Homo sapiens: one gene and its partners. The protein of the gene in region 1 interacts with the protein of each later gene in a biochemical or structural test. Each region holds a gene or a part of one and is shown on either strand. Other genes may lie near its edges. The genes, in order: CSTF3, FIP1L1 and CSTF2.

Region 1 (3,755 bases):
TTCTCAAAGAACTAAAAATTATATTTTAGCTAAATCAACTGTAGATGTAAAAAAAAACTATACAAATACTTACACGCCTTTTAGGAAATTGATGTAATCCACCCAAATCTAAGAAATAAAATGAAATGTTAATATCTTTCTTGGTATTCTTACATTTAAGTGCATACATTAAAAAGTTTTAACTCTACCTGATAGGACATAATTTCCATTCCAATTTTATCCAGTGCAAAGTCATATGCTTGAGCCATTTTTTCTCTGAAATGAACATGAAAGACGTGGTTTTTAAATTTTTTTGTTATTAAAATTTATCTACAATTAGGCCAGACATGGTGGCTCATGCCTGTAATCCCACTGCTTTGGGAGGCCGAGGCAGAAGGATCACTTGAGACCAGGAATTCAAGACCTGCCTGTGCAACATAGCAAAACCCAGTCTCTAAAAAAATAAAAATTAAAAAAATTAGCTGGGCATGGTGGCGTGCACCTGTAATCCTAGCTACTCGGAAGGCTGAGGTGGGAGGAGTGCTTAAGCCCAGGATTTCAAGGTTACAGTGAGTTATGAATGCACCATTACACTTCAGCCTGGGTGACAGAGCAAGACCCTGTCTCTAAAAAAAATTAAAAATAAATTATTATTTGAAGATAGACGTGGTGGTTCATTCCTGGAATCCCAATGCTTTGGGAGGCTGAGGCAGGAGGATCATCTGAGGCCAGGAGTCGGAGACAAGCCTGGGCAGCACAGTGAGACCTCGTCTCTATAAATAAATAAATAATAAATGTATATATAACTAAAATGTAGCTTCTGATCACAGGATCAGAACAACACTTGAACATTCTCTATAAACATAAATTAAAGACATCTTTTAAGTATATAAAGTCGTTCTTTGATGTTAAGCTTGTCAAGATCATAAATTGTTTCCTTTATCTACTGCTTGTGAGCTTATCAAAAATAAGGCTCATGTCTTACTTATCTTTATATCATTTAAGTTGCATAATTCTATACATAGCAGATTCAAATGTGGAAATTTGTGGTTCTCTCATTAATGAGACATTAAGATCTTTAGCTCTAAAGTAAAATGTAGAAATCTGGAAAGTATAGTTTTATTAAAATGCAACTTATGTTAAAATGTAAAGGGTACATTAGGGAAAAAGAACTTCCACTTCAATATAAGACAATAAACAGACCAGGTGTGGTGGTTTATGCCTGTAATTCCAGCATTTTGGGAGGCTGAGGCAGGAGAATTGCTTGAGCTCAGTAGTTTGAGACCAGCCTAGGGACATTAACTTATGCTTGAGACCCTGCTACGTTTGGAGTCTCAAACATAAGGAGACCCCATCTCTACAAAAAAATAGAAAAAAAATCAGCCAGGTGTGGTGGCTCTTGCCTGTAGTCCCATCTACTTGGAAGGCTGAGGTGGGAGGATCACTTGAGCCCAAGAGGTTGAGGCTACAGTGAACCCGTGATTGTGCCACTGCACTCCAGCCTGTACGACAGAGCTGAAACTCTGTCTCAAAACACAAAAATCATAACAAAAAGTATAATCAGGAAAAGACAATAAAGACAGAATTTTAGTAACAGACATAACTTGCCTGTTAGTTACATAGAAAAATGGCACCTCAGAAGAAGGTCCATTATTTAGATTTGGCAAAGATGGGGAGGTGGGTATAATTCGGAGTGGGGATGGCAACTTCACAATACAATTGTCAGAGATCCCTTATATCACTACAAATGTCAGAGACCCCTTAGATCACTTAAGTAGCACATTGCATTGTGACCTCACAAAAGTGGTACTAGCACAAGTATGAAGATGGTTTTTGAAAAAATTTGACAAGTCTGTCAACAAAGTGGTTTGGTGTTGCAATTATACAGTGTTTCAGTATAGAAAGGGCTTGGGCGATTCAATTCTCCAGAGTAAGACTCATGCCAGTGACTTTCTCTGAAGCACTTTTTTCAAGGTTACTAATTCTTAGGAAATCCTGACTTTTCAAATCCTGATAATTCTTCCCACTTGGGGCTAACAGAAGGTGTGAGTTTATGTGGGATTAACTGTGTGCCTGGAGATGACTTGCATTCTTAAGATCCTGGTTTCACTTACTTGTAACTTGGTAGTTTACCCTTGGTTTCTCGGACATATGAAAGATAACACTTCCATAAATCAATGTGCAAAACCTTCATAAGGCATCTCTGAAATAGCTTTAAATACAAGAATATATTATCAGAATCCAGTTAAATAAATTTCACATGGACATAGATGAAATGGAACATTAAAAACACAAATTCAGCTCCCTTTATGAATTTATCTCTTATAAATAAAAAGCAAATAATTTCCCCATTTTCAGTTTAGATAATTAAAATGCTTCTCATGATTTGTCAGGGGAGTATAATTATTTTCTTTTCCTTTTCCAAAACTTTTATGATGAACATTTTCAAGCATATAAAAAAGCTGAATAAGTACAATTAACTTGTAAAAAATCACTATCTAGATTCAATTATTATTAACATTTTACTACATCTGTCTTATACATACTAGGTTTTAAGTTAAACTTCAATATAAAATTCAAAGTATTTGAGGACTCACCTTTTCAACCTTGTCATAATTTTTAGCTTTAATCTGAAGAGAAACAGAAAAATATAGAATTAATACTATTTTTTTAGAGCATCAGTCTGAATTTTTGACCAATTTTTAACCAACTTTGCAAATTCATCCCTATAGTTTCTTATTAATTTTTCTGTTACTTTCAAAAATAACAGAAGTGTGAAGCAAACATGGATAAAATGCATTGTAAATATACCTGTGTAAATTGAATCTATATGGATTTTCATACATTTACATATAAATTTTGTGAATTTAATAAAATTCTGTAAAAGTCATGAGATGAATACAGAAATATACACATACCCGATAGGTCTACCTGAATAGGATGTATCCACTGAAGAAAAACTTAAGGCTTTCCTTTCCCTGTATAGCTACCAGAACAATCTGAGCGGCAAAAAAGATATGCAAATTTGGACTACATATAAACATTCAGTCACACCATCAACCTAATATATTGCAGATATTGTGCTAGGCGTGGGGGCTACCACTGTGACAAGACAGGTCTGCCCCTGCCCTCATAGAGCTTACAATCTTATGGGGAAAATAAGACAACGAAGTGGAAGGTCATTGTAAGATATTATGGTTAAGTGCTAAAATGAAGAAAGTACTGGGTGCTACAGCATTTTGGAAGAGCAAAAGACTTAGACTTGGGGAATTGCAAAAGATTTCCGGGAAAAAGATAACTTTTTCTAGGAGAATCTGAGCTATTTGCTGAAGAAAGGGAAGAGTTATTCCAGGCAGGAGAAATAGCATGTGCAAAGACCAAGATTAAATACTATTAGATTTCTCTTTTCTTTGAGTATTTTCATCACAGAGTGGGTGGGGTTAGGTGCTCAACTGTGTTAATCAGCAAATCTGTTTCACCCAGATAGGTAAATAAATATTTTGGCTGATTAGAGAAGTTTTGGTCCTTTTATCTCAAGTAGTACAGTAATAGAGTAGTATTCCCAGTTTTATGGCTTAAACTACTGCAGGTGAGAATGCTGATGACAGTCTTTTTTGCTTTTGCTGATAACTTGTTCTCTTCTGGACTTTTTTATCTTGATCTTTAGAGTTCATAAATTTTAGCACACACTTAAACACAGCTCTTTGTACTTTGAAGCAGTTCAATCAAGGCTCTGGAGTCAGACCTCTTAGGTTCACAATCTGGCTATCTACTTA
Region 2 (3,755 bases), on another chromosome or scaffold:
ATGGAATTTTTAAACTATCATATAGCATTTAACCACTTTTATAGGGAAGCGATTTATTTGGGGAGTAAAAGTGGGACGGTAGACAAGCCAAGGGTATTCCGGAGTATTTATTAATTACCGTAATTTTATTTGTAGTAGAGGTTACTGGTATAACTTCAAGTCCCATTCGTATCCTCTTTTGTTTTTCACAGTAAGCTTTCCAGGTATCTTCATTAAACCCATAATTAAAATAATCAGAAAGATCAGCACCTAAAGATAAAACACAACTTTAGTGTACAAATATTTCAGCTCTATTTTTATGCAGCATCAAAAATATACTAAACTATAAAAATATAAATTTAGAGTTCTATCAGTTATCACTCTATCATTTATGGTGGCAAAAAGACTATATCATTTTTGATCAAATTATTCCCTTTACAAACGCCATTATAATAAACAATAAGTCTACATTTTAAGTAATACAAGGCCACCAGTAAGATTTAATAATCCCAAGTCATTATTACTCATCATTTGCTTAAGACAATTAAAATTATAATGAAAAAATAAAATTCTAAATTGATGTTCAAAAAAATTTTCTGATGACTTCACACTGAAAATATTGAAATTAATATAATCCACAATAATCTTACCAGGTTTACGCCATGGTTTATCTTCAAAAGAATCCAAATCTACCTCTAAGAGTGGAACTCCATTAATGCTTCCAGGTGCATCAAGGTCTACTCCTTTGACTTTTGTCCCTGTTTTATAAAATTACAAAATGAAGGAGCTATACTTGCAAGAAGCCAGGCGATACCATAGACAAACAGAAAATATAAACACCTTTTTACTATTCCTGGCACATATACACACACAAACAGAAAACAAACATCTTTTTACTATTCCTGGCAAAAAACCTGGCAAGGGTTCCAAACAAAGCAGAGCCTAAAATACGTGCTACTGGACTCTTGCCAGAAAAACTTTACCAGTCTCTGTGATGTACGGTCAAAAATTACTCTTTAAAAAGAGCTATTATCACCTTGGCCGGGCGCAGTGGCTCACACATGGAATCCCAACACTCTGGGAGGCCAAGGCAGGTAGATCACTTAAGCTCGAAAGTTCAAGAGCAGCCTGAACAACATGGTGAGACCTGGTCTCTACATAAAAATACAAAAATTGGCCAAGCATGGTGGTGCACGCCCGCAGTCCCAGCTACTTGAGAAGGTGAAGTGGGAGGATGGTTTGAGCCCAGGAGACGGAGGTTGCAGTGAACTAAGATTGCGCCACTGTACTCCAGCCTGAGTGACAGAGCCAGACTCTGTCCCCGACTAAAAAAAAAAGCTATTAAGACCTATTTAAGATATGTGCCTTATTTCCCTATTGATGCAACAGAAAATACAAATTTTACCTGTAGTTCCATAAACTCTTCCCCCTGTCTTGATGTTAAGATTTACAGGTGCTGTACCATAACTCCTAAAAACAAACAAACAAAAAAAAACAGAAATTATCCTGAAAAGCTTAAACAAAACAGTAATATATTCCATTTGTACAAACAAATTATACAATCACATAGTAAATGGATAGTGTGACACACATTTTATTTCTATCTTTATTTTTTAAATTTTGTATAGATGAGATCTCATACCATGTTGTCCAGGCTGGTCTCGAACTCCAGAGCTCAAGCAATCCTCCCACCTTGGCTTCCCAAAATGCTGAGATTACAAGAGTGAGCCACCGTGCCCAGCTAACACATATTTTAAAAAACATTTTAAACTGATTTTTAAAGTCACTTGCTCAATAAAAGGCAAAAACAGTAAAAAAAAAAAGCCTGACTTGTTTCCATTTCAAAAACCTTTTTGCCAATAACTCAACATTCTACTGTAACAAACTTCACAAGAAATAAGGCTAAGAAGGGAAAAATAGTTTACACCCCTTGTCTTCATTTCCTTGCCTCCCAGTTATTAAATATACAGCACTCTTAAGCATAAGTAAAATTCCTCCAACTTGTTGTCAAATCTAGTGGCCTTTCAGTTCTTCTTGCATTTGATATTGTTAATAAATCCTTTTTCAACTATTCATGGAGTACTCAGTCCATAACAGAAATTTATTGACAAGAAATTCAAAAATAAGTCTAGCATGAAAGCAGAACAGTGTTTGCCGGTGGTGGGTGGTTAATGACCAAGAGGCAAAATGAGAGAAACTTCTAGGATGCCAATTATGTTTCATATCTTGATCTGGCTGTAGTTACATGAATGTATATATTTGAAAAAATATTAAGCTGCACCTTTTTAGATGTAATATAATACACAGTGATAAAGAAAAAAATATCTGAAGTTGGACCAACCCACATTCAAATGTTTTGTCAATTGCTAGTTGTGTAATCTTGGCCAAAACACCTAAGACTTGTATACAATTATTTGAATAATTCATTGCATTTTTACTTGTATAAATGAGCCTTGTATACATTTTCTGTAATACGGGGTTACAGACAGTTCTTTACTTCTTTATATAATGGATTCTTATATATGAGTAGTATTATCAAATATACTAATTAAAAGAGACTTTTCTGTTACTAGGGAAGTTAGAAGAAAACGGGAATGGGCAAAGAAGGACCAACTCCCACTGAACAAAAACATATCAGTAAGACGGCCGGGCACGGCGGCTCACGCCTGTAATCCCAGCACTTTGGGAGGCCGAGGCGGGTGGATCACGAGGTCAGGAGATCAAGACCATCCTGGCTAACACCATGAAACCCCGTCTCCACTAAAAAATAGAAAAAACTAGCCAGGCATGGGGGTGGGCGCCTGTAATCCCAGCTACTCAGGAGGCTGAGGCATGAGAATGGCGTGAACCCAGGAGGCGGAGCTTGCAGTGAGATCGCGCCACTGCACTCCAGCCTGGGCAAAAGAGCGAGACTCTATCTCAAAAAAAAAAAAAGATATCAGTAAGACCTCAAGTCACAGATGTTTATAATGATATATTTCTCACATTATATTCATGTTATATATTTGGTTCTTTTCTCTCAGAACTTCAGCCATCTGGACTTCAGATTCACTGCTTTGGGTCTAATAATAATTACTTCCATCTTTTGTCTCTGATGTACTACATTTAAGACTTAGGTTTAGTTACATTTGCACTGTCACTTTTCTTTTCTACTTAAAAAAGAAAAATGTAAATTCAATAAAATGTTTAATTGTATCAAATAACTGTAGCTCCACAGCTAGAAATGCAAAAATTACAAAGTGGACCAAATATTACTACTGTCAAGCAGTACTATCGTCACCAACTTGAAATAATCATTTCATAGGCTGATTAATTCATGTAATGCTTACTGAGCACCAAACCATGTCAAGTATGGTTCTAGGCTGAGGAAAAAGTATGAGGAGCTGGACAATTACGGTTCCTGCCTTCACGATGTTTACATTTTAACAATCCAAATTCAGAAAAAGTGACTTAGCGGTATCTACATATGATGTACATGATTTTTCTACAAATGTACAAAAATCAAGGATTTTCTCTAAACTGTTCTCTTACAGGACCGTATAGAATAAAACAGTATTTTTATAAAAGGCTTAGCCACAAGTGTTCAATAAATGAGCTTCTTCGCTTTCCACCTAGCTACTTTCTATTCCCCATTCTGCCTTTTAAAACATCATTTTTCTTTTTTAAGCCACAAGCCTTTGTAGAGAAGCCTGTGTAGAGAAGCTTAGTGGTATGAAAAATTGCAGAGGCAAATTTGATATAATGTCCAATAGATCCCTATGAAGTCTCAGACCACT
Region 3 (3,755 bases), on another chromosome or scaffold:
GTGGCATGATCTTGGCTCACTGCTATCTCTGCCTCCCGGGTTCAAGCAATTCTCCTGTCTCAGCCTCCTGAGTAGCTGGGACTACAGGCATGGGCCACCACGGCGGCTAATTTTTGTATTTTTAGTAGAGACAAGGTTTCACCACATTGGTCAGGCTGGTCTCGAACTCCTGACCCCAGGTGATCCGCCTGCCTCGGCCTCCCAAAGTGCTGGGATTACAGGCTTGAGTCACTATGCCCTGCCTAAAAAACATTTTTAACGAAAAAAACATATTTTAGGTAAGAATAAATGTCAATTGTATAGTGTATCAATTATATCTCAATAAAGCTGTTACAAGAACAAAATGTATGTGAAAAGTCACCAGTAAAGAAAACCTGCCATTATTACTAAGAGCCAAATCTGTGGTGATTTTTAAGAAGCTCCCACCATGAAGGAAAAGGGGATCTCACCTGAAACTAACAACAGGTCCAACCTCAGAAAAGATGTCCTTCAACTGCTCTTCAGTAGCTTCATAAGGAATGTTCCCCACTAAGGAAGAAAATAGGTAACATTAAAATTCTGAGTTTATAACATAGATCTTTAGTGAGAAAGTAAACTTATATCATCAAATATAAGACTCAAAATAGTGTTCTCCAATCCCAATTCCATTGTATTTCTTCAGACCTCTTAACAAAGGAAATATACCACTGAAACTAAATACAAAATGTGTAGGTACTCTCAAATGTTAGTTCTCAGACTGATCTGACACGTGTTAGATTTTCCTTAACTTTGGTGCAAATAAATACTTTGGCACTGGTATTTACCTAAAGATCTGCAAGTCTCATCAGTGACTACAAAAAATATCAATGTTATTTAATATAATTTTTAAAACAGGTTCCTATGTATTTCCACACATACAACATTTAAGGGAGAATGACGATGAATGTAGTGAAAGATGTTTAAAAAGTATTCTGAACTACTTTGTCATGTCCCTTTCAAATGGTACTCTAAAATAATCACACGTATTTTTAAAAACAACTTATTTCAGCCAAAAAGATAATTCAGAATCGTTTCGATCCTTTTTAAAATTCCTCTGAGGAGATCTTAATAGTTCATTCATTCATTCACTTACAAGCCATCTCAGGACACCAGGTGGCCGCTACCACTATTGATGCACTAAAATGTTACAGATAAAAAGCAAAGGATGAAAGTCCTTAGGAGAGGACAGTAAGTGGACACTAGGATCTATACCCTCAGCATATAGTCTGTATTCTGGGGCAGAGGATGAGAAGTAGTACGGGACAGTGAGGAGCTGTTACCGTGAGCCTTCTCCTCTAGAGAATAATTGAAGCTCATGAAAGGAGAAACGCACAGAAGCTGAACGCTAGTCTAACTTCCCCACTGATATTGCGGAAAGCCTACGAGACCTCGGCAGAATGGGAATATCTCTTTGCTCATGAGTCCACCAGGTTGGACGCCCTACAGGATAAGCAGGGAGAACTGCACGTCCGAACCGTCAGCGGCTCCGGTAGCGATTCATGAGATAGAAGGTGCAGAGGGGAGTCCCTCCCCGAAGCTTGACTACAACGAATTCCTCTCACCGAACACAGAACGTAGAGAACGATCCACCGCTGGGTCTCTCACAGTCAAACCCGCCATAGCTCTGTTGAGTCGGCTTCCGGTGCGCCAAAGCACACTTCCGTACGGAGCACAAGCCCAGCGCTGAGCACGCTTCCGTACGGCGCGTGAGCCGGAAGGGCCTGGGCGGAACGGACGCAGAGCCCCTCCCCTGGAGACATTCTGTTAGCCGCAGGCGCGAGTTGCGTCCACCGGAGGGCTATATTCTCACTCCTGAGATTAACTCTGTTCCGAGCCAGATGCAGGCGAGTCCAGGCTAATTTGAAGGGTTTCAGCCTGCAGACTTCCTTCTTATTAATTTTCTCTTAGGTTGATGCAAGTACTCCTCAACCACAATAAAGGCGCAGCGGCTTTACCATGGTAACAGGGAAGTCCTTTGCTGACAACTGTGGGGCTTGCATTTTAGTTCCGCCCTATCAAGGGAGGGAAATGCTTGGGCCCGTCCCAGCAGCGTGCATATTATTTGCTAAACCTGTTCGTGTGTGGAGTGAGATGAGGAAAGGGCATGCCAGCCGAGAGAAGCATAGTTAAAGAAATGGGAGAGGTAAAGGGAGAACAGACCTCTGTCCTCGTGTAGTCCGTGGGTTCCATGTGCTTCGTGGTGGGGCGGTGCGGCAGGGGATTCTGGCAGGCAGAGTATCGGAAACAGAAAACGTCATTCATCGGTTTTTCCACACTTTGGTGCCCACGCGCCTGGGATATGGCATGCAGGGCAGGTCGTTGTATCATCCCGGAAAGGCAGACCCTGCCGGGGTTGGAGGAAATCCAGGGGGCACCTCAGGAGGACAGGGTTAGGGGATAAGCAAAGGAAGGAGCCAAGAGCGCTACCTTTGAGGGACTTGTCCGAAAAAGGAAGACGGTAAAATAGCCACGGAATTGGAGGCATGGACGTTTTTATTAATTCCACATGTATTAAAAGTATATGGGCCGGGCGCGGTGGCTCATGCCTGTAATGCCAACACTTTGGGAGGCCGAGGCGGGCGCATCACCTGAGGTCGGGAGTTGGAGACCAGCCTGGCCAACATGGAGAACCCCTTTTCTACTAAAAATACAAAATTAGCCGGGCGTGGTGGCGCATGCCTGTAATCCCAGCTGCTCAGGAGGCTGAGGCCAGAGAATCGCTTGAACCCGGGAGATGGATGTTGCGGTGATCCGAGATCTGCCATTGCGCTCCAGCCTGGGCAACAAGAGCGAAACTCCATCTCCAAAATAAAAGTATATGAAATATGATAAATATTTAGAAAAAATTAATAAGTGCTAGTTTACACCATGAAGCATATCACTTTAAGAAGTAATTCTGGTAAAGATGGAAAGTTTGAGAAGAGTATACCCATTTCCATGACTCTAGAGTCCCATTTGCAATCACTGTGTGACCAAGAGGACACCTTGTGTAATGGAATGGTCCAAAAGGAGATTTACAGCTCTGTAGAAGGCACAGTTTCAAAGAGTTTTGGTGTGTCATTGTTCCGTTGTGGTGAACTTTTGCTAAATGCATGTACGGCTGAGTATATTTCTAACTCAGTGTTTGGCAAACTTACATAAACAAAAGATTAACCTGGGGTCTTTGAGTAAGAGTATAGATTCCTGGGGCTCCACCCCAGCCCTATGGAATGGGACTCCAGGGAAAGAACTTGGGAATCGTTATATTTAAACAAGTGCCACTGGCGATTCTTAGGGTCAGGTAATTTGAGTAGCATTGTAGTTATTGAGGTAGCTTTATGGCAGCATTTAAGACACGCATGCTTTCTTATGAAATTTCCCTTAAAGTAGTTCTCAAAGTTCTCAACCCTTGTGGAGGAGCATTTTTGGAAATGTACAGTGGCATTTTCAGTTGTTGCAATGACTACTGCTAGGGGAAGAGAAGCCAGAGATGATAAATGGACTGCCATGTCCAAGGCAGTTCTACAGGATGAACCCCTCCCCCCACTGAATGCCAATAATGTCTCTCCCCTTGAGAAACACTTAATATCAGCCATATTAGACCAAATGGACCCTGGATCTGAATGCTATGTTGCACTGCCAGCCTTGCATAAATAATTTTTACTTTAGCCTTCTTACAACTGTGTAGCTGATCCCAATGAGTTAGTAATAATAAAAGCTAACATTTATTAAGCACTTGCTGTGTCCTCATTGTATTA

What was found.
Region 2: the proteins of CSTF3 (region 1) and FIP1L1 form a complex in vitro, tested with the Homo sapiens proteins (one study listed by BioGRID).
Region 3: the proteins of CSTF3 (region 1) and CSTF2 form a complex in vitro, tested with the Homo sapiens proteins (one study listed by BioGRID).

The regions. Positions count from the first base shown.
Region 1 is NC_000011.10:33,105,810-33,109,564, forward strand, and holds part of CSTF3 (cleavage stimulation factor subunit 3), read right to left. Parts: intron 2,610-3,755; coding exon 2,577-2,609; intron 2,192-2,576; coding exon 2,094-2,191; intron 256-2,093; coding exon 189-255; intron 109-188; coding exon 74-108; intron 1-73. UniProt on the Homo sapiens protein: One of the multiple factors required for polyadenylation and 3'-end cleavage of mammalian pre-mRNAs.
Region 2 is NC_000004.12:53,387,503-53,391,257, reverse strand, and holds part of FIP1L1 (pre-mRNA 3'-end-processing factor FIP1), read right to left. Parts: intron 1,450-3,755; coding exon 1,385-1,449; intron 738-1,384; coding exon 630-737; intron 250-629; coding exon 119-249; intron 1-118.
Region 3 is NC_000023.11:100,818,300-100,822,054, reverse strand, and holds the start of CSTF2 (cleavage stimulation factor subunit 2), read right to left. Parts: upstream 1,665-3,755; 5' UTR 1,639-1,664; coding exon 1,581-1,638; intron 529-1,580; coding exon 450-528; intron 1-449. UniProt on the Homo sapiens protein: One of the multiple factors required for polyadenylation and 3'-end cleavage of mammalian pre-mRNAs. This subunit is directly involved in the binding to pre-mRNAs.